2 separate regions of the Homo sapiens genome follow, and region 1 is linked to region 2. Evidence: fine-mapped expression QTL. Tissue or cell type: testis. Region 2 holds a variant in brackets; the other region holds the start of a gene. All regions are shown on one strand. Distances are from middle to middle.

Region 1 (9,612 bases), 11 kb after region 2:
TAGCCGGGTGTGGTGGCAGGTGCCTGTAGTCCCAGCTACTCAGGAGGCTGAGGCAGGAGAATGGCGTGAACCCACGAGGCGGAGCTTACAGTGAGCCGAGATTGCGCCACTGCACTCCAGCCTGGGCGACAGAGCAAGACTGTCTCAAAAAAAAAAAAAAATTATGAACATGTCTTAACTACATATATAATGGGAAAAATTAATTTGTTTAATATACATTTTTAAAAGCCTTACCTGGTCTTCAAAGACCAGTTAAAATGCCAACTTCCCTGAGGGTTTCTGAGACCTCGGTCTCCATTGCTTTACTCTGCTGTGGTCCTTCCTTACTCCACAGCCTGCCTGGTACTGAGTTTAACCTGGGCCTGTCCTATCTCTTCTCTAGCATCTTGAGGGTGGGGCCTGGCACAGTGTCAGCCACCCAGTAGGGGTTCTCTCTGCATTGTGGACTGAATGACTGAGGCCAGCTACAGCCAAAAGGCTCCAACTGGGCCCCTGGGTCGGCTCATGCTCTGGCCTCTCTCCAGAAAAAGTCTGCAAATCTCTTTCACCCCAGAGACTGTCAGCTGCTCAGGGAAAGGTCTTTTTGAAAATGCAGCTGATCAAACGCTTGCAACAGGCCCTGAGACATCTCCCAGATCTCGCTGTCACAAGTGCTCCAGAGGACAGGCTTCACAGCCTCGACTACACAGACACTGCTGAAATATTTACGAGGCTGCTGGCTTGTGAAACAGCTTTGGCTGGGGAGAAAGGGTAGGGATGTGGCGCTTGTTAAGTACCTGGACGTGTCACACCTCACACCGTGCAGGGAGCCTCCTGGCTCAGTGAAGGAGCTGCCATTAACCTCACCTAACCTCACTGGCAGGCTGAGACCCCAAGTTCCTGAAGCAGTACGGCATAGAGGCTGAGAGCTGGGCTCTGGGGGCTGACTGCAGGGCTGGGCAGCTGGCCCCATCACCTGCCAGTTGTAGGCAACCTTGGGCAAGTTACTTAACCTCTCTAAGTCCCAGTTTCCTGTCTATAAAATGGAGATGAGAAAGAGGACCTGCCACTGTTGGGAGGATTAAACAAAACAATCCACGTAGCATCCTTAGCATGGGACCTAGCATATGTTAAGTGCTGCATAAATGGCAGCAATTCTTACCATTATCAACCCAGTCAAACAAGAGTGAAGGGGCTTGGGAAGGAGCCAAAGCCACTCACTAGCAATGGCAACCCTCCAGGAATGGGCCGGACCCTCCTCTGTCTTCCTCATGTCCACTCAAGCTGGAAACCTCTCCCTCTCTCTCACCTTCTACCGCCAGGCAGCCCTTCACCAGATCCCCCCTTAAACAGCCCCTGAATCTGTGAATTTTATCCACCTTCAATGCCCAACACAAGCCCAGGCCACCATCACCTCTCCCATAATGGCAGCGGTAGCTTCCGCGTGTCTCTTCTCTGTCCTGCAGCCAGGGGGGCTTCTAAAATGGCCAATCTGGGCTGGATGCGGTGGCTCACACCTGTAATCTCAGCACTTTGGGAGGCTGAGGCAGGTGGATCACTTAAGGTCAGGAGTTCCAGACCAGCTTGGGCAACATGGTGAAACCCTGTCTCTACTAAAAATACAAAAATTAGCTGGGCATGGTGTGCATGCCTGCAATCCTAGGTACTCGGGAGGCTGAGCCACAAGAATTGCTTGAACCCAGGAGGCGGAGGTTGAACTGAGCTGAGATCGTACCACTGTACTTCAGCTCCAGCATGGGTGACAGAGTGAGACTGTCTCAAAATAAATGAATAAATAAATTAATTAATTAATTAAATGGCCAATCTGAGTGGGTGCCCACCCCTTCAACCTCCCTTACTCTGTAACTTCCCAAAGCCCTCCCCTGTCCACAAGGCTGGCATGATCTGCCTGATGCCCCAGGTACTTCCCCATCTTACAGCCTTTGCACAGGTGTTCCCTCTGTTTAGAACACTCATCCCCTCGCCAACCCCACCTCATCACTCGGGGCTGCTGGAGGCCTCCCCCGGACGTGCTCCTCCACCCATCTGCATTACTGCCCTGTTATTCTTCCACAAGGCAGCTTGGGCTTTGGCTTTGAGGCACTCGCCATGTGTGATTCTGCACTCCAGCATGTGGCTATTTACTTAAGACCTGCTTCCCCCTCTAGACTGTGAGCTCCTGGAGGGCGGGGAGGGGGTCTCTTGCTTGCTTCTGCTCTCCTAGCTCACGACATGACTCTCAGGCTGGGCTGGAAACACTTGGTTGAATAAATGAGTTCTGGTCCCCACCCAAGCACACAAGGAGTGACCCACACTGCTGCCGGGCCAAACTGCACTGAAAAATGGCATTGCTGTGTGGACGTGGCCCTGCCCACGTCCCGCAGGCAGAGCAGGAAGGGCTGAGGAGCCCTGGCCAGGCAAAGGGAGGTCATGGACACAGCACCGACACCTGCCCACCCCTTTCCAGTGACCCAGTCCTGCCTCCCACAGCCGAGCAGTGCTCTGTCAGTATGGATGGCCTGGACAAGTAGGGTAATGCAAGAGGCCTGGCAAGTTGAGGGCTCTGGCCCCTGGCCCCGCCTGGCTCTCCGCTGTTCCCAGCTGTCTTTTCCTCATCACTCCCTCCTTGGCCCAGACTTATCCTTTCATGTTATTCCTCTGGGGATGGTCTGTCTCCTACTGGAGGCTTACTCAAGGAAATGAATTTTTAGTGGTGGAATATTGAGCCTGTTATAGTCTCGGCCAAGGGTAGACGGCTGGGAAGGGGGTCCCTCAAACCCCACCTCTTAGACAGTTGCCTCCTGTCCCTGTGAATACAGCTGCTTTGCCTGGATCAGCCTCCAACCTCACTCTGGGCTAGGCCACCTTCTTCCTAGGATTCAGCTCAAAGTTGGCGCCTCATGTTTTCCTTCCTCCACGCCTTCATTTGCACACCATTCTGGTCCCCTGCAGGGCCTCATTCTCCTCCCCCAACATCACTGTCTCTTGTCTGTTGAAGCCTACCCTTTAAGATGCAGTTCAAAAACCACCTCTCCTTCAGGCCAATCCTTTTCAATCTCCCAATCAGATATAACTTCTTCTGAATCCTCCAAAAGCACAGTACTGATAACCTTCAATCATATATGGCTTTGTCTGAAGGATACTGGGGGACAAACAGCTGTCTCTGTTGTACCTGACATTCTAGAATGTCATGGTTCTTTGTTGCATGTAATACAAGTTGGTGCTGGTTATAAGCTTCTGAACAATGATGAGGATGGTGGCATTTGACATTCGGTAGGTGCATTCGACTATAAGTTCCTTGAGGGTGTGGATGAGAGTTCCACGTCTTTGTCTCCCTAGCACCTAGCATGGTGCCGGCACACAGTAAATTCTCAGCAAATGGTTCTGTGGTTCAGAATGGATGTTCACAATAATGGCTCTAACTTGTCAGGCCTGTCGTATGCCAGGCTGACATATGACGTATGTGCTGAGCCCTGTCCAAATGTCATCTCACTGAGTTTTCACAATCACTCTCTGGGCCAGGCACCAATAGTCTCCACTAAGAAGTAACCCCACAGGGCCGGGATTTGTGTCTGTTGTGGTCACTGTTGTACACACATCAGTGTTTGACATGGAGTTGGCCCTCATAAATATTGTTTGAATAAGTAAATCAGTTCATGGATACCCATTGTAAAGATGAGGAAACTGAGGCTCAGATTTACCTAAGGTCAATCATCTAGTAACTGGGAGAGTCAGAATTGGCACCCAGATTGATCTGACCCCAAACCCTGTATTCTTCAATATTGAACTCTACCAGGTCAAGGGATGGAGCAGGAAGGCTTGAGATACACAACCCATATCTTTAAGGCACTTTCCATCTGGTGGAGAAACGGAAATGTATGCACATAGCGGCACATGCGATGGCAACAGAACCCGTGAGACCCTGGGGAAAGAACTGACTTTTCGAGGGCCTGCTGCAAGGGAGGGGCTAAGCCTGGCCTAGAACTTTAGTTACCTGAAAACTTGATTTTTTTGTGTTATTCTAACGTGCAGAGGGCCTGTGCCAGGCCTACCAAGGAGTGAGCTGATGCGGCTGAGAGTTTTGGAATGTGAGGCTGGGATGACAAGCCTGGGGCCTGGCTCTTCTGTGCTCAGTGAGGACTGCTCCAGCCTCAGCCCCAACTCCCAGCAAAGCCCAGGTGTGGGGAGCAGGGGAGGTGAGACAGAGATGAGGAGGGACAGAAATGTGGTTTCACACCTGACCCAGCAATTCCTGCAGCTGGGAAGCATGGCGACTCAGAATGCCGATGCCTGCCCGAGGCTTCGGCTTCTTGTCCCGCGTTTTGGAGACCATATCTGGAGAGGCACAGTGTGAGGGGCATGGGGAGGCAGGAGTAGGACTGCAGCAGAGAGGGGTTTTGCAACCAGCCTCTGGCTGGTCAGCACAGGAGTGTCAGGTTCTTTGCTGTGGGGCTGCTGGGGATGAGAGAGGCAGGAAGAACCCCTGTGAAGAACAGTGAGAAGGGTAGGGGCCAGGGGCCTGCAGGGTGATGGCAGGCTTTGAAGGGTGTGAAAGGCTGCCACAGCTGAGGCCCGGCTATACCCAGGAGGGAGCAAGCAGCCTGATGCCTGAGCTGGCCTGGCCCATTCACCTCTTGTGGCCCAACCTGAGAACCTTCTTACTGTGGGTGAGCTGGGCCTTGTCTAGCCCCTGCCTCTGCGCCCCCATCACTGGCCTCAAAAGCACAGGTTCTCTCTTTTCTTGCACGGTGAGGAGGCAGAGAGTGGTGCAGGCTGGGTGTGCGGGTCTGTGTGTCAGGGGGTTATTGGTGAGAATCTGGGGAGAGGCGCCTGGATAGCTCTGATTCTACCCACCTAGGAGGTCTGAGACCCTCCCAACTCCTCCCCGACTCCCAGCCTCAGTGTTGTCGCTGAAACCCTCTTGAGCTGATGGTGCCTACGCGGGGTCAAATGCATTCTTCTCACCGGCCTCGGCCCCAACGTGTCATGTAACCTCGTGTTAGTCACTCAACCTCTTTGGCCTTGTGCTTCCACATCTGTAAAATGAGAAGTTGCCTCCGCCCACACCTTTGCCCCTCCCCACCGCCAACCCACACTTGCCCCAGACAGAGCTGGCAACAAAAGCAGACTGCGGAGTGGGAGGGACTGCCATGGCGTGGGCCTGGAAGGAGGAGAGAGGCAATGCCTGCGGCCAGACCTTCGCTCCCCTCAGAGCAGCCCTGAAAATATTCCCGGCTGGTCTTTGCCTCTCCACGGTCACAGCAGCCTCGTGATGAAGATGGCAGGGGGAATTCTACAGAGAGGACAGGACTTCCTTCCATCTTCTCCTGCTCATAGCTGCTGCCTGGGATCCACTCATCCCCTTCTTCTCTCCTTGGCCTCACTCTGCAGTGGGGGTGCTCACTGACTCCAGGGTTCAGCCACTGTCTGCATGCTAATGAGCTAAGGAGTCCCACACCTCCACCACCAGCCCAGCACTCAACTCCATGGGCCCCAGGGCTGGGCCCCAGGGCGGGAAGGGATGTGGTCCTCCCCCTGAACACAGTGCATGGTGCCTCCTGGGGCTGCGCAGGGAGGAGGCCTTGCCCGGACCTCTCTCCTGGGCACCAGGAACCTCTGGCCAACTGCCTACAGGACATCTCCACCTGGATGTCCTACAGGCCCTCAAACTCAACCTGACCCCCGCCCAAGCACCTCAGCTCCTTTCCCTTTTCATAATGGTATCATTCTCCCAGGGACTCAGTCTTCACACCTTTGCCCTTTTTGATGCCCCTTCTGCCTTTCTCTCACTTCTACTGTCTTCCCAAGTCCTGTCGGTCCTGTCCCATGCTGTCCCTTTTCTCCATCTTTTCTGCCCCTGGATCACGTGTCTTATTTTCTAGTGATCAAACATGTTTACAGCATGTGTTAGATGGCTGGCTCTGCTCTAAGTGCCTTACAAATCCTAACTCTCCTCATTCTCACAACCTTCAGTTTACAGAGGATGAAACTGAGGCACAGAGAAGTCAAGCGTCTTGTGCAGGGCCAGGATTGGGACCCACGCAGCCTGCTCCAGAGCCGGGCTCTGACCCTCCACAAGAGCCATCACTAAAGTTCCACTTACCGCTGCACCTTCAATCTCTTCCTCTCTCCATCCCTCCCACATGTTCACAGACAAAATCTTCTTCCTTATTTAATAAAACAATATAATGACCAGCCTGGCAAACATGGTGAAACCTCACGTCTACTAAAAATAGAAAAATTAGGCCTGGCGTGGTGGCTTACGCCTGTAATCCCAGCACTTTGGGAGGCCAAGGTGGGTGGATCACCTGAGGTCAGGAGTTCGAGACCAGCCTGGCAAACATGGTGAAACCCCGTCTCTACTAAAAATACAAAAATTAGCTGGGCATGATGGTGGTGACTATAATCTCAGCTACTTGAGAGGCTGAGGCAGGAGAATCGCTTGAACCCAGGAGACAGAGGTTGCAGTGAGCGGAGATCGCACCACTGCACTCCAGCCTGGGTGAGAGAGTGAGACTCCACCTCAAAAAAAAAAAAAAAAGAAAAAAAGAGAAAACAATGTAATAGCAAAAATTACTACAGAGGTTGGTCTTTCTTATCTTTTTTTTTTTTTTTTTTTTTTTTGAGGCTGAGTTTCACTCTTATTGCTCAGACTAGAGTGCAGCAGTGCAATCTTGGCTCACTGCAACCTCTGCCTCCCAGGTTCAAGCGATTCTCCTGCCTCAGCCTCCCGAGTAGCTGGGATTACAGGCATGTGCCACCACATCCAGCTAATTTTTTTTTATTTTTAGTAGAAACGGGGTTTCGCCATGTTGATCAGGCTGGTCTCGAACTCCTGACCTCAGGTGATCCATCCACCTTGGCTTCCCAAAGTGCTGGGATTACAAGCATGAGCCACTGCGCTTGGCCTGGTTGGTCTTTCTGAAGCATGACTTTAAACACGTCATTTCCATGTTCAATAAAACCTTGAGGCCAGGCACAGTGACTTACTCCTGTAATCCCAGCCTTTGGGAGAGCGAGGTAAAAGGATCGGTTGAGCCCAGGAGTTCGAGGCCAGCCTGGACAACATAGTGAGATCTTGTCTGTACAAAAAATAAAATTAACCAGGCATGGTGGTGCAGGCCTGTAGTCCCAGCTACTTGGGAGGGTAAGATGGGAAGATCGCTTGAGCCTGGGAGGTTGAGGCTGACGTGAGCCATGATTGTGCCACTGCATTCCAGCCTGGGCGATAGAGTGAGATTCTGTCTCAAAAATTAAATAAATAATAAAATAAAATAAAGCTTGAAACTCCCCATTACTTTCCCGCCTTGTACAAACAGAATAAAGCCTATCATGGGGTGGAGATTTGAGGATGTTACCCCAACAACCTCCCCAGCTCCCCTGGGGAGCCCCTTACTGTTTCTGACTCCCTTGAGGCACTATTCTCCCAGCCCTCAGCCACCCCAGCACTGCCTGTCCCCTCCTGCCCGGGGGTGAGTCTGAAGGGATCTCATTCTTCTTGAAGAATGGCTTCTACCAAATGTGTCAACAGGGACAGAGACCACAGACATGACAAATGAATGAACAAATGAGTAACTGTGGAACTGAGCTGCCTTATGTGGTGGAAATTATTTCATTAAACAATATTTGTGGAACCCTTAAGGCTAACACTAATAGCTAACACCAAGAGCTTATTGTGTGCTTATAGTCATCAAACATGCATAGAGCATGTGTTAGATGCCTGGTTCTGTTCTAAGTGCCTTACAAATCCTAACTCTCCTCATTCTCACAACTTTCACAACTCATCTCTCACAAGCTCTCATACAGCTTTTAAATAGAGGAGCCGGGATCTGGAGCAAAGCTGCTTGACTGTGTAGCCTTGGCTTTTGACTACCACACCTAACTATCACCAGATCCCAGAGGAATGTTACACGAATGTTTAATATTTGAGTAATGTCAGCTGGGCACGGTGGCTCATGCCTGTAATCCCAGCACTTTGGGCGGCTGAGGCGGGCAGATCACCTGAGGTCAGGAGTTCGAGACCAGCCTGGCCAACGTGGTGAAATTCTGTCTCTACCAAAAATAGGAAAAGTAGCCAGGCGTGGTGGTGTGCGCCTGTAGTCCCAGCTACTCAGGAAGCTGAGGCAGGAGAATCGCTTGAACCTGGGAGGCGGAGGTTGCAGTGAGCTGAGATCGTGCCACTGCACTCCAGCCTGGGCAACAAGAGCAAAACTACACCTCAAAACAAAAATTTTTTTGAGTAATATCCAAAGACCACCTCATGGGAACATATACCCTAGTTACTTGGGAGGCTGAGGCAGGAGGATGCTTGAGCCCAGAAATTCAGACTGTAACAAGCCATGATCATACCACTGCACTCCAGCTTAGGCAACACAGCGAGACCCTGTCTCAAAAAAAAGTTGGGGGGACATATACACAATGTCAAGGTAATAGAGTCCAACATCTGAGAAACATCATAGCACTGACAATGTCAACATGTCTGAGGAATATAAGGATTTTGTATAATGCTGTACTTTACTCAACCAAATACTTATCAACCCACCACATCCATGTCAGTCACTATTTTAACCCACAGGTGTAAAGCAATGACACAACACCCCCAAACTCCTCCTCTTCTGTAGCTGACGTTCTAATGGGAGAGAGAGAGAGAACAAAACAAAACAAAACAAAACATGTCAGAGGTGACAATTGACATAGAAAACATAAAGCTTAATCAGAAAAAAGGGACTGTCCAATTTGCTGGGTGGGGGTATGCGGGTGGCACTGCTACTTTGTATAAGATCAGGAAGACCACCCCTGAGATAATGTCTGAGCAGAGTAGTGAAGTTAGTGAGGGAGGGAGCCACGCAATGATCTGTAGAATTTCCAAACAAGACACAGCCAGTGCAAAGGGCCTCAGCTAAGCGCATGCTCAGCCCAGTCTAAGGAATGGCCAAGAGGCCTGTGTGGCTGGAGCAGAGTGAATGCGAGAGAAGGAACAGGAGTGATTCACAAACATGAAAGTGCTAAGGCTGATGAAAGTCAGGCTCTGCGTAGTGCCATGTCTGGGAAATATTACTAGCTACAATTGATGGAGTGCATTCCACACACCTGGCACTGCATTCAGTCCAGCTCACACCAAAACTGCTACAGGAGCTTAGAGTGTAACAGGGAGTCAGTCAAAGAAACTTCACAGCGCCACGTGACAGGCGTTACATCAGGGTGCTAGGGAACTACAGAAGAGGAGCATCTAACCCCAACTAGGGGGGGAAGGAGGCTTCCTGGAGGAGGTGGCATTCAAGCTGTCAAGCAGGAGAAGGAAAACACTTCCAGGATGCAGATGCAGAGAAGGAGGGAAGGCCAGAACCTGGACCAGCTGGTCAGAGCTCCAGGTGCAGTGCTGGGGACCAGGGCACAGCTTGCTGGAAGAAGAGCTCGGGTTTGTAGGGTTGAGAGAGCCTCTGGACACGGAGGCCCAGGCTTAAGTGTGTTTGTGCAAAATTGGTGGTTATGGAGTGGGGGACAAAGGGCAAAAAGGGGTGGGATAAAGACTTTGATAATTAGGCCAGGCACGGTGGCTCACACCTGTAATCCCAGCACTTTGGGAGGCTGAGGAGGGTGGATCACTTGAGGTCAGGAGTTGGAGACCAGCCT
Region 2 (10,291 bases):
AATGTATTAGTCTTTTCCTGTATGACTCTGGGTTTTCCATCCTGATTAGAAAAGCCTTCCCACTATGCTATGTGGGTGATGGGTTTGATTGTACCCCAAATCCCAGCATCCTGCAGTATAGCCTTATAACAAACCTGCACATATATCCCCCAAATCTAAAATAAAAGTTGGAAAAAAAGAAAGACTTTCCTATTCCAAAATGTAAATCAATTTACCCATACTTCCTTATAGAATTTACATGGCTTTATGACACTTAAATCTTTGACCCAAATGGAATTGTTTTGGTTCCATTTTTATGATCCCTCTCCAACAATATTCCAGGCATCCCAACACCATTGATTGAATATTGTATTTTCTCCATTGAGTTGAGTGGACATGTTTGAATCTTTCACTAAAGTTCTGGAGCCCCTTCCCTAGCTTAAGGTTCCTTTTGGCTTTAATGTGTCAGGGTGGATGCCGACCCATTGGAAGAGACAGGCATGGATGTGGAGTAAGGGAAAGAGGTAGAGCAGGGAGCAGAGGCTCTAACCTCTGTACCATCAGCTTGATGAGTGATCTTAACACATCATTTCTGCTTTCTGGGCCTCCGTTTCTCTGTAGAATGAGTAGAGAAGACCAGTTATTTTCTAAGGCCTCTTCCAGTTTGAATACTGTTTGATTCTAGGGATTGCAGAGAGCAAGTGTGTGGGAGTGACAGAGCAGGAACTGAAAATGAGACATCCATGGTATTTGTCAGTCTCTTCTTTGCCGGTCCTGCCCTCTCCCACCATCCACCACCCCTCACCCCCCAGCTCCCCTGTCCAAGGCCCAGGGGCCTGGGAACCAACCAGACCTTAGCCCTGGCAGGGGAGGGCAAGTCCCAAGAGAAGCTACTGATTGGGGGACAGCAGGCAGAGGACACAGTCCCCTGAAATATGCTGAGAAAGCCAGCCCTGTGCCAGCACCACTAGAGTCTAATCACCTCCAAGGCCCTAGACCCATCCCAAGAGAGGAAGGGCTGGGTAGGACCGGAAAGCGCCACTCCGAAGGTGGGATGTGACTGTAGGAACACACACATGCACACACACACACACACATGCACGCATATGCACACATGCACGATACACACACACATGCACGCATGCACACACATGCACACACACATACACACACATGCACGCATATACACACACACATGCACACATGCACGCACACACGCATACACACACACATGCATGCACACATCATCCCAGGATGCATACACACAAAAGGGGGCAAAATTACTTGGGCTTTGCAGTGAGACAGACCTCCGTTCAAATCCCTGCTCCACCACTTAATCTGTATGATCTTGGCAAGGTATTTAAATTCCAGAGCGTCCTCGAGAATGAACTTTGCAGGATTTTTGTGACAACTCAGTGAATCCTAACACAGTGCCTGGGACACAGTAGGAGGCCACTTTAGGATATTCTGTGTCCCCTCCTGCTCCCTCTTTCTCTGTCCTAGATGCTTGAGTCTTTGATCAGGCCATAGCATGGTGCAATAGAAAGAGATCTTGGCCCTGGGGTCAGACCACCCTGCATTTGAATCCCACCCATGCAGCTTCATTACCTCACATCCATAGAGCACTCGGCATGGCGCCGGGCCCACAGTGGGCACACAACAAGTGGTGTAAATACTACTGCTAGGTTCATCTTCAATGAGCCCAGGAGCTTACTGAGGCCAGCATCCAGGTAGGACCAGGTAGGACAGGGTGTTCAGGCCTGGAGAGAAGAAGGCGTGAGTCTGAGGGATTCACTAACAAAGGCTTAAGACGATCATGCAGTAATGATCCGATGGCCCCACTGGGAGTCTTGACACTGACTCATCCTCATGTTCGATTCAGTTCTAGGCAGCCTTCACAGAGCCATTTCCTGGCCTACACCCCTGTCATTCCCAGCCAGTCAATAAGCCACCATCAATAAGGCTGCCAGATAAAATCTAGGACACACAGTTACATTTGAATTTCAGATAAATATTGAGTTTTTTTTGATATAAATGTGTCCCAAATATTGCATAGGGCATACTTATGCTAAGAAATTCTTATCTGAAATTCAAATTTAACTGTGCGTCCTATATTTTTATTTGCTAAAGATGGCACCCCTAGCCACTTGATCACCCACCACTTATAATAGTAATGACTTACATTTGTGAACACTTAAGCGACCATTACATCAGCTGCGTGCCGCCCTTTGCAGTCAAGGTCACGTCCACTAGCTGGTACATCCCTCCTTTGAAGAGGTGGCACATGACATTGTGGCGAGGGGACGTGCAGGCACTGCTGAGCCTCCTCAGCTCACTGAGGAGGCCCGGGGGGGCACCGGGCTCACTGGGAGTGGATGGGAGCCCTTAGTCAGCAATATCATTATTATTACCTGCCTTTAACAAGCAAAAAAACTGCAGTGCATTCATTTAACAAACGTGTACTAAGCCTGGTGCTTTTCAAGGCCTGAGAGGAGAGGTTAACTGATGTGCACAGTCCCCCGGCTGGTGGATGATGGCCAGCTGAACTCTGCAATCCTAGGCGGAGGCGGTCAAATGATTCTCCACCCTCTCCATCATGCCAATGCTGGAGAATCCCCAGCAATACATTGCAAGTGTGTCTGAATCTTCTGTGTATGTGTTCGTCTCCCTCCCCAGCCGGCTCCACTCCTCTTACCTCACTCCAGGCTGGGAGCCCCAGTGGCTAGAGACAGTCTTATTAACCTTAGGATTCCACTGAGGAGCTCAGAGTGGGTGCCCAGTAATTACAGGGAGTTATTGACGGGGGTCCCCTCTTTACCAAGCCACTGCTTCCTTGGGACCAGGGGCATGACACTGGTTACATACTTCCCACGGCCCTGCTCTTCTTCCTTCAGGTCACAAATTCCGAGGGCCTCTGGAAGGAGTCAAGAAAGGAAGGGCAGATACTTGGGTGGGACAGAAGAGGAGAGGTTGAAGACAGGATTAAGGCGGTAAAATACAAAACACATACTTACACAAATAACATTGTTTTGGCATCAGCAGTGCTGGCATTTACTGTGATGGGTGGGTCCCTAAAATTAAAGTTGATTGGGGAAGGGGTCAGGGCAGGGACAGGTTCAGAGTCAAGATACTCAGGGCAGTGCTGAATGAGTCTTAGAACACTAGCACGTAGGAGCAGCATTCCACAGCTGGCCCCTGCCCCTCACCCCACCCCAGCCCTTGGCCACTCCGCTCCAGCCACGCTGGCCACCCTGCCTGCGTGCTCCCTGTCAGGGCCTTTGCTCTTGCTGTTGACTGCTTGGAATGCTCTTCCCCCAAATGTCACTCAGTTGGCTCCCTTGCTTTTTCCAGTCTCCTTCTCAACAAGGCCAGCCCTGCCCATCCTGCTGAGTCCTGGAACTGCCACATCCCTGCCCTCCTCACCACCTTGCCTAGCACCGCTTTCCCCTGTCCACAGTATCTCTAACTTCTAGAACTTTTTGTTATTTTGCTCACTGATGTATCCTAACATTGCAGAATGGCACCTGGCATGGTGTGTGCTCAGTAAACATGTGTTGTGTTGAATTTGTTGAACTGAATCTGGAAGGACCTTGATCATCTAGTTATTTCTAACCAGGTGTGCTTTCCGAGTTTCCGGTGGAACTTGTCAAAACACCCCAATCAGAGTCCCTACCCCAGACCTCCCGAGTCAGCTTGAGGAGCTCCCCAAGGTTTCATATATTAAAAATCCCTTCTCTGGTGCAGTCTCCCCTCTTAGCAACTGGCTTGCCAAGGCTCCCAGAGGGCCCGCTCCGTCCAAGGTCACTGCATAGTTGGGGGCTGAGCCAGCAATCCCACAGTTCTCTCCACTTGGAGCCCATTCCAGCTCTTCAGGCGGATTGGACAGCACCTCCTAGGCCAGTCTGGGGGACCCTCAGTCCAGAACACTCATTATCAGAGAGAGTGCCTGGCACTGTTGTTCTCTGTTTAGTTTCCTCCCAGCCCAGTGCCTAGCACATAGCTGGAGCTCCATGATTTGCTTTTATTGTTTTCTGTCTTATTCTTGGTGAGCAGATATGCCTGGGCCTCGGTCCAGTTGATCTTCATTTCACGTTCTCCAGTGAGCTGAGCAGGCACAGGGCTGGAGAAGTGAGGAACGGAAGGATGCCCCTGCCTTTCTCACTATGACCTGAGTTTCGAAGCAACGTCCTGTGACAACGAGAGAACTGGCTTGGGGCCAGTTGTCTATTGCTGTGTGGTCTGAGCCGGTCTCATAACCATTCTGTTTCCCAGCCTGTAAAATGTGGCTGGCACCCGGGGTGGACATGAGGATCCCACCTGCCAAGGTATTGCTGGAGGCTCACCATACAAACCCAAGGTTGCACTCTTGTTCAATGCCTCCTGTGGCACCCCTCTACCCAAGGACAAAGTTCATTTCCTTGGCCTGGAACCTGAAGTTCTTCCACCTTGGCCCCAGTCCCCAGCCCCTTGCCTCATCTGCTGGCACTCCTCTCTACACACCCTTCACTCTGGCCACTGTTAGTCACCACCCTGAACAGGCCACACCGTATCACACCTCCACACCTTTACACAAACCGTTCCTTCTGCTGGGAATGTCCCCTCCCTTTGCTACCCAGAGAATCGCAGCATCGCCAGCCTCTGCAACACCTTCCTGTTCTGTCTGTATCTGATGTGGAGGCCCGCAGCCCGGGTTACACCCCTGGCTCCACCACCTACCTGCTGAGTGACCTCAGGCAAAGTTCTCTACCCTCTCAGCCTCAGTTTCCTCATCTGCAAAATGGAGAAGATAACAAGACCATCCTTCAGGGTGTTGTAAAGATGAACTGAGATCATGTGGGACCTGGCCCCTTCCTGGCACACACGAGGTGTAAATGATGACTGTTAGTACTATCCTTAGTGTTCCTATCAATACCTCACTCTGCCCAACTGCACTCAGGATCTCTGCCCTCTAAGGTGACCCAAGGACCCCCCAGGCCAGCTGATTCTGGAGAAGCATGGGGATGGGGAGATTTCCTGCAGTCAGCCCTTTCTCTCTCTTTCCCTCCCTCCCTCCCTTCCTTTTTTCCTTCTTTCCTCCCGCCTTCCTTCCTTTTCCTTTCTTTTCTTTTCCTTTCTTTCTTTCTTTTTCTTTCTTTCTTTCTTTCTTTCTTTTTCTTCTTTCTTTTTCTCTGTTTCTCTCTCTCCCTCTTTCCTTCCTTCCTTCCTTTTTTTCCTTCCTTCTTTCCTCTCTCCGTCTCTTTCTTTCTTTCCTTTCTTCTTTCTTTCTTTTCCTTTCTTCTTTCTTTTTCTCTGTCTCTCTCTTTCTCCCTTCCTTCCTTCCTTCTCTCTCTCTTTCCCTGCACCCTGCCTACCGCCCCCCCACCCACAACTACAAGAGGATTTTGCTCTGTCACACAAGCTGGAGTGCAGTGGTAAGAACACAGCTCACTGCAGCCCTGACCTCCTGGGTTCAAGCAATCCTCCCTCCTCAGCCTCCTGAGTAGCTGGAACCACAGGCATGTGCCACCACGCCTAGCTAATTGTATTTATTTAATTTTTGGTAGAGGCGGGGGTAGAGGTGAAGGGTCTCACTACGTTGCCCAGGCTGAACTCCTGGCCTTAAGCAATCCTCCCACCTTGGCCTCCCAGCATTGATCAGCCCTTTCTGATTAATGAAACAATTAGGAGGAGAACCATAATGGCAATGGAAACAGAACTCACCAAGAAC[A/G]GCTGTGTTCTTATGCAAGGGTCTGGGTCACAGCAGGTGAGGGGGGAGTCTGGGGAAGGGGAGAGACTGCAGCTGCAATAGGGGTTGCACCCCCCACACGCCAGGCTTGACTGTGCTCCATCCCTGAGGGGAAGTGCCAGGGACGGCCCTGCTCACCTTCTGGCCTGGTCTTCCCATCTATCAGGGCCTGCAGGAGGGCATCACCATCACCCTCTCTCTTCTCCACAACAACCGCTAGAGGACAGTGGGCTGTGGAGTCAGACTGCCCCGGTTCAGGTCCCTGCCGCGCCCCTTTCTAGGTGTGTAACCTTGGACAAATTGCTCAACCACCTGTGCTTCAGTTTCTTCCTCATCTCTAAAGTGGGGACAATAATAACGACTCCTGCTTCACTGAACTGATAGGAGGATTAAATTGCCATCATGTCTTTAAGACGCTGAGCACGATGCCTGGAAGACAGTAAGCACTCAGGAAATGTTAGTTATTATTAATCATTTCCTTATCGGGGGGTGGGGAAATAGAAGGAAAGAGAAGTGAAGTAACTTGACCAAAGCCATCCAGCTTGTAAGTGGTGGAGCCAGGATTCCACCCACGGGTTGTTTGCCTCCAAAGCCAGAGTTCTCTCAATTTTTCTATGTTGTCCCTTGTAATCACCCTTACTCCCTAAACTTAAGCTGGAAAAACAATTTTTAAAAAATATCCTAACTGGCTGGGCGCAATGGCTCACAGCTGTAATTCCAGCACTTTGGGAGGCCGAGGTGGGCAGATCATGAGGTCAGGAGTTCGAGACCAGCCTGGGCAACATGGTGAAACCCCGTCTCTACTAAAAATACAAAAAGTTAGCCGGGTGTGGTGGCGGGTGCCTGTAATCTCAGCTACTCGGGAGGCTGAGGCAGGAGAATTGCTTGAACCCAGGAGGCAGAGGTTGCAGTGAGCCGAGATTGCGCCATTGTACTCCAGCCTGGATGACAGAGCAAGACTCCATCTAGACAAAAAAGAAAAACAAAATACCCTAACTATAATGGCAATGTGTTGAAACATTTCAAATGTATGTAAATCCATAAGTTTATGATAAAAATTAATGATCACTTTCAGAGATGCTAGGGAACTCGCTCATTATTTTGAAAACTATAGGATTTTCAAGCCTCTAGATTTAGGGATGCAATCAAACTCCAGACTCTGGGAAATTCTACAGCAAAAATGACCTGGTTTCCTCAACAAATACATTGTAAGGGTGGAAAAAGAGAAAAAGGGGACCTATAATTTAAAAGAGACTTAAGGCCGGGCGCGGTGGCTCACGCCTGTGATCCCAGCACTTTGGGAGCCTGAGGCAGGCAGATCACATGATGTCAGGAGTTTGAGACCAACCTGGCAAACATGGTGAAACCCCGTCTCTACTAAAAACACAAAAATTAGCTGGACATGGTGGTGCACATCCGTGATCCCAGCTACTTGGGAGGCTGAGGCACAATAATTGCTTGAACCTGGGAGGCAGAGGTTGCAGTGAGCCAAGATCCCGCCACTGCACTCCAGCCTGGGTGACAGAGTGAGATCCTATCTCAAAAATAAATAAATAAATAAAAGAGCCTTAAGGCACAGTGGCTCATGCCTGTAATCCCAGTGCTTTGGGAGGCTGAGGTGGGAGGATCGCTTGAGGCCAGGAGTTTGAGACCAGCCTGGGCAACATAGCAAGACCACGTCTCTACAAAAAATGAAAAAATTAAGCCAGGCATGAAAAGAAACAAAAAAGAGAGAGAGAGGCTTAAGAAGCATTAATCATTTGCAATACAGTATATGGACTTTATCTGAATCCTAATTTGAACAATTGTGTAAATGAGAAAACTGGAGAATTGGAACAGTGACTAAGTATTTAATATTAAATTATTGTTAGTTTTTTAGGCATAATAATAGTAGTATAGCTATTTGTTAAAGTCCTCTTCTCTTAGAGACGCATCTGAAATAGTTACAGATGAGATGGTACGATGTCTGAGATTTGCTTCAAAAGAACCCAGGGGGTATGGCTGGGCTAGAGATGAAGCTCAATTGGCCGTGAGTTGGTAATCAGTGAAGTGGGGTGATGAGCGCCTGGGGTTATTATATTACTCTCTCCACTTTTATATATGTTGGAAAACTTCCATAATAAAAAGTTAAAGAAAAATCTGAATGATGTAAAACCGTTTTGTCTTTATAACTGCTTCTAGGAATTGATCCTCTTGGAACCTCATTTCCCCAACTGCAAAGGGAACTAAACTGTGTCATGGTGATCACCAATGCCCAACACTCACTAGGTGCCAGGCACTGCTCCAAGAACTTGATTTGTTTTCAGTCAATCTCTGAACCACGCTATGGGCAGGGGACTTGTACTGTGCCCATTTTGGAGGAACCCAAGGTCTAAAGAAGTTAGTGGTGGGCTGGGTGTGCCGGCTCACACCTGTAGTCCTAGCACTTTGGGAGGCCCAGGTGGGAAGATCCCTTGAGCCCATGAGTTTGAGACCAGCCTGACCCATGTAGGGAGACCCGATCTTTACAAAAAAATTAAAATAAAAATAACTAGCCAGGTGTGGCGGTGCATACTGTGGTCCCAGCTACTTGGGACGCTGAGGTAGGAGGATTGTTTGGGGCCGGTAGGTCAAGGCTGCAGTGAGCCAGGATCATGCCACTGCACTCCAGCCTGGGCAGCAAAGCAAGACCCCATCTCAAAAAAAAAAAAAAAAGTTGATTAACTTACCCAGGGTTACACACAGCAGGTGGGCAGGTGGAGGAACTCTAGAGCCCTGCTGCTTATGTTGTACAATAGGCTGCCTCTCAGAGTACAGAGCTAACCGTGCATCCATGTGAGCCACTGTGGTGTCTTTTCTGCCTTCACAGGTCCTCCCCATGCTGCCACATCCCTACCTTGCCCACTGCTGGGCCAGAAGAGGCTTGCTAAGGGTGAGGACTGTGGAAACTTGCCTGTGGTACCTCACCTTGAGTCAATGTGTGTGAGGAAGGTGCTCCTGAGAGTCGCTGACCCATGACTTAGGCAAGGGTAGGGCCCCAGCTTGAAGTGCGGGCAGAACCGGGCCAGGTGGAGGCAGCTGCATGTTTACCTCCTTCCCTGGGCTGCCTGGGCAACCTTTACCATCCTGGCCTGAGTGTGGAGAGACCCACTGAAGTTTCTCCCAGGCGTGTGTGTGTGTGTGTGTGTGTTTGTGTTTGGGGAAGGAGCAGGCTGGAGCTCCAAGGCTGCCTGCAGGAGGGAGAAGAATCTACTCCTTTGAAGGGGCTCAGAGGGGCAGGAGGCTGGATGTGATGACCCCAGGTGTCCTCACTGCCTGTTCCCAGCTGTCTCCAGCTACTGGGAAGTGCATATGTGGGTATAGAGTGTGGCCACCCCGCTCTCTGGGAGATTATAGCCTAAAGGATTTAAGGATTAAAATCTCCAAACACCCTGCACCCTGGAACCATCCAGGCAGGACTGGCACCATCTCAGCACAGTTCTTTGCTGTCTGGATTCTCTCCCCATTCTATCCCTCACTCACTCATTAATTCAGTGCATGTTTGCAAGCACTCGCTCTATGGCAGGCGCTGCGTTTGGCCCCGAGGGCGTGGCGATGAATAAAGCACGGTCTTATTTCTCCCAGGTTGCTCACAGTCTATTAACAGGGAAATATGAGAGTGGAGGAGAAAATATCTGCTCCACGCGCCCCTCTTCCCAGGAGCCTGGTCAGGCTTAGTTGTGCAGCCCCCTCACATTCCTCCTGTCTCCAGCCTGGTCTGGATTGATCCTTCTCCCACATGTCACAGTCCCTCCCATCCGAGTCTCCCCATAACATCGCCCTGTGGGTTTGCCCTCCAGAGAGTGGGGAATGGTTCAGTCTAGATCAGCATAGTTCAACAGAAAGAAAAATAACATGAGACATAAATGTGAGTTACACACATAATTTAACTTGTTTTGGGCTGGGCGTGGTGGCTCAGGCCTGTAATCCCAGAAATTTGGGAGGCTGAGGCGGGCAGGTCACGTGAGCCCAGGAGTTCGAGACCAGCCTGGGCAACATTGAGAGATCCTGCCTCTACAAAAAATACAAAAAAAAAAAAAAATTAGCTGGACATGGTGGCATGTGCCTGTAGTCCCAGCTACTCGGGAGACTGGGGTAGGAGGATCACTGGAGCCAGAGAGGTCAAAGCTGCAGTGAGCTGTGACCATGCCAGTGCACTCCAGCCCGGGTGACAGAGCAAGGCCATCTCCATAAATAAATAAATAAATAAATAAATAAATAAATAAATAAATTTTAATAGTCACATAAAAAAATATATAAAGAACAGGTAAAGTTAATTTTAATAACATTTTATTTAACCCAACATACCTAAAATGCGATCACTTCAACATGTAATCAATATAAAATTATAAATAAGATAGTTTGTATCTGCTTTTCATACTGTCTTTGAAATCCAGCGTGCATTTCACATTGATAGCACATCTCAACTTGGACTAGCTGAATATTAAGTGCTGACTAACCACACGTGGCTAGTGGCTACCACATTGGACAGAACAGATCTAGATTATCAATTCTGGGATCTGGTCCTCTTTACCTAGTTTTGGAGCTGGAAACACAACTCCATTATCC

The links. PIP is the estimated chance that this variant, and not a neighbour inherited with it, causes the effect. A credible set is the group of variants that fine-mapping cannot tell apart.
Region 1: LINC02395 starts here. The variant in region 2 is the best candidate, but not a certain one, in a credible set for the expression of LINC02395 in testis (GTEx, PIP 0.74).

Annotation. Positions count from the first base shown.
Region 1 is chr12:49,905,454-49,915,065 of GRCh38, reverse strand. LINC02395 (long intergenic non-protein coding RNA 2395) reads right to left here and starts at 3,113. Exons shown (of 6, transcript NR_110048.1): 1 at 2,983-3,113. It overlaps LINC02396 (long intergenic non-protein coding RNA 2396), which reads left to right and starts at 3,203. Exons shown (of 2, transcript NR_146570.1): 1 at 3,203-3,252; 2 at 5,953-6,184.
Region 2 is chr12:49,916,384-49,926,674 of GRCh38, reverse strand. It overlaps LINC02395 (long intergenic non-protein coding RNA 2395), which reads right to left. Exons shown (of 6, transcript NR_110048.1): 2 at 2,994-4,749; 3 at 2,162-2,893; 4 at 1,588-1,739; 5 at 1,287-1,413; 6 at 336-594. Among named protein-coding and RNA genes, the nearest start is that of LINC02395, 9.6 kb to the right of the region's middle. The variant A/G (reference allele first, on the strand shown) is at 5,687.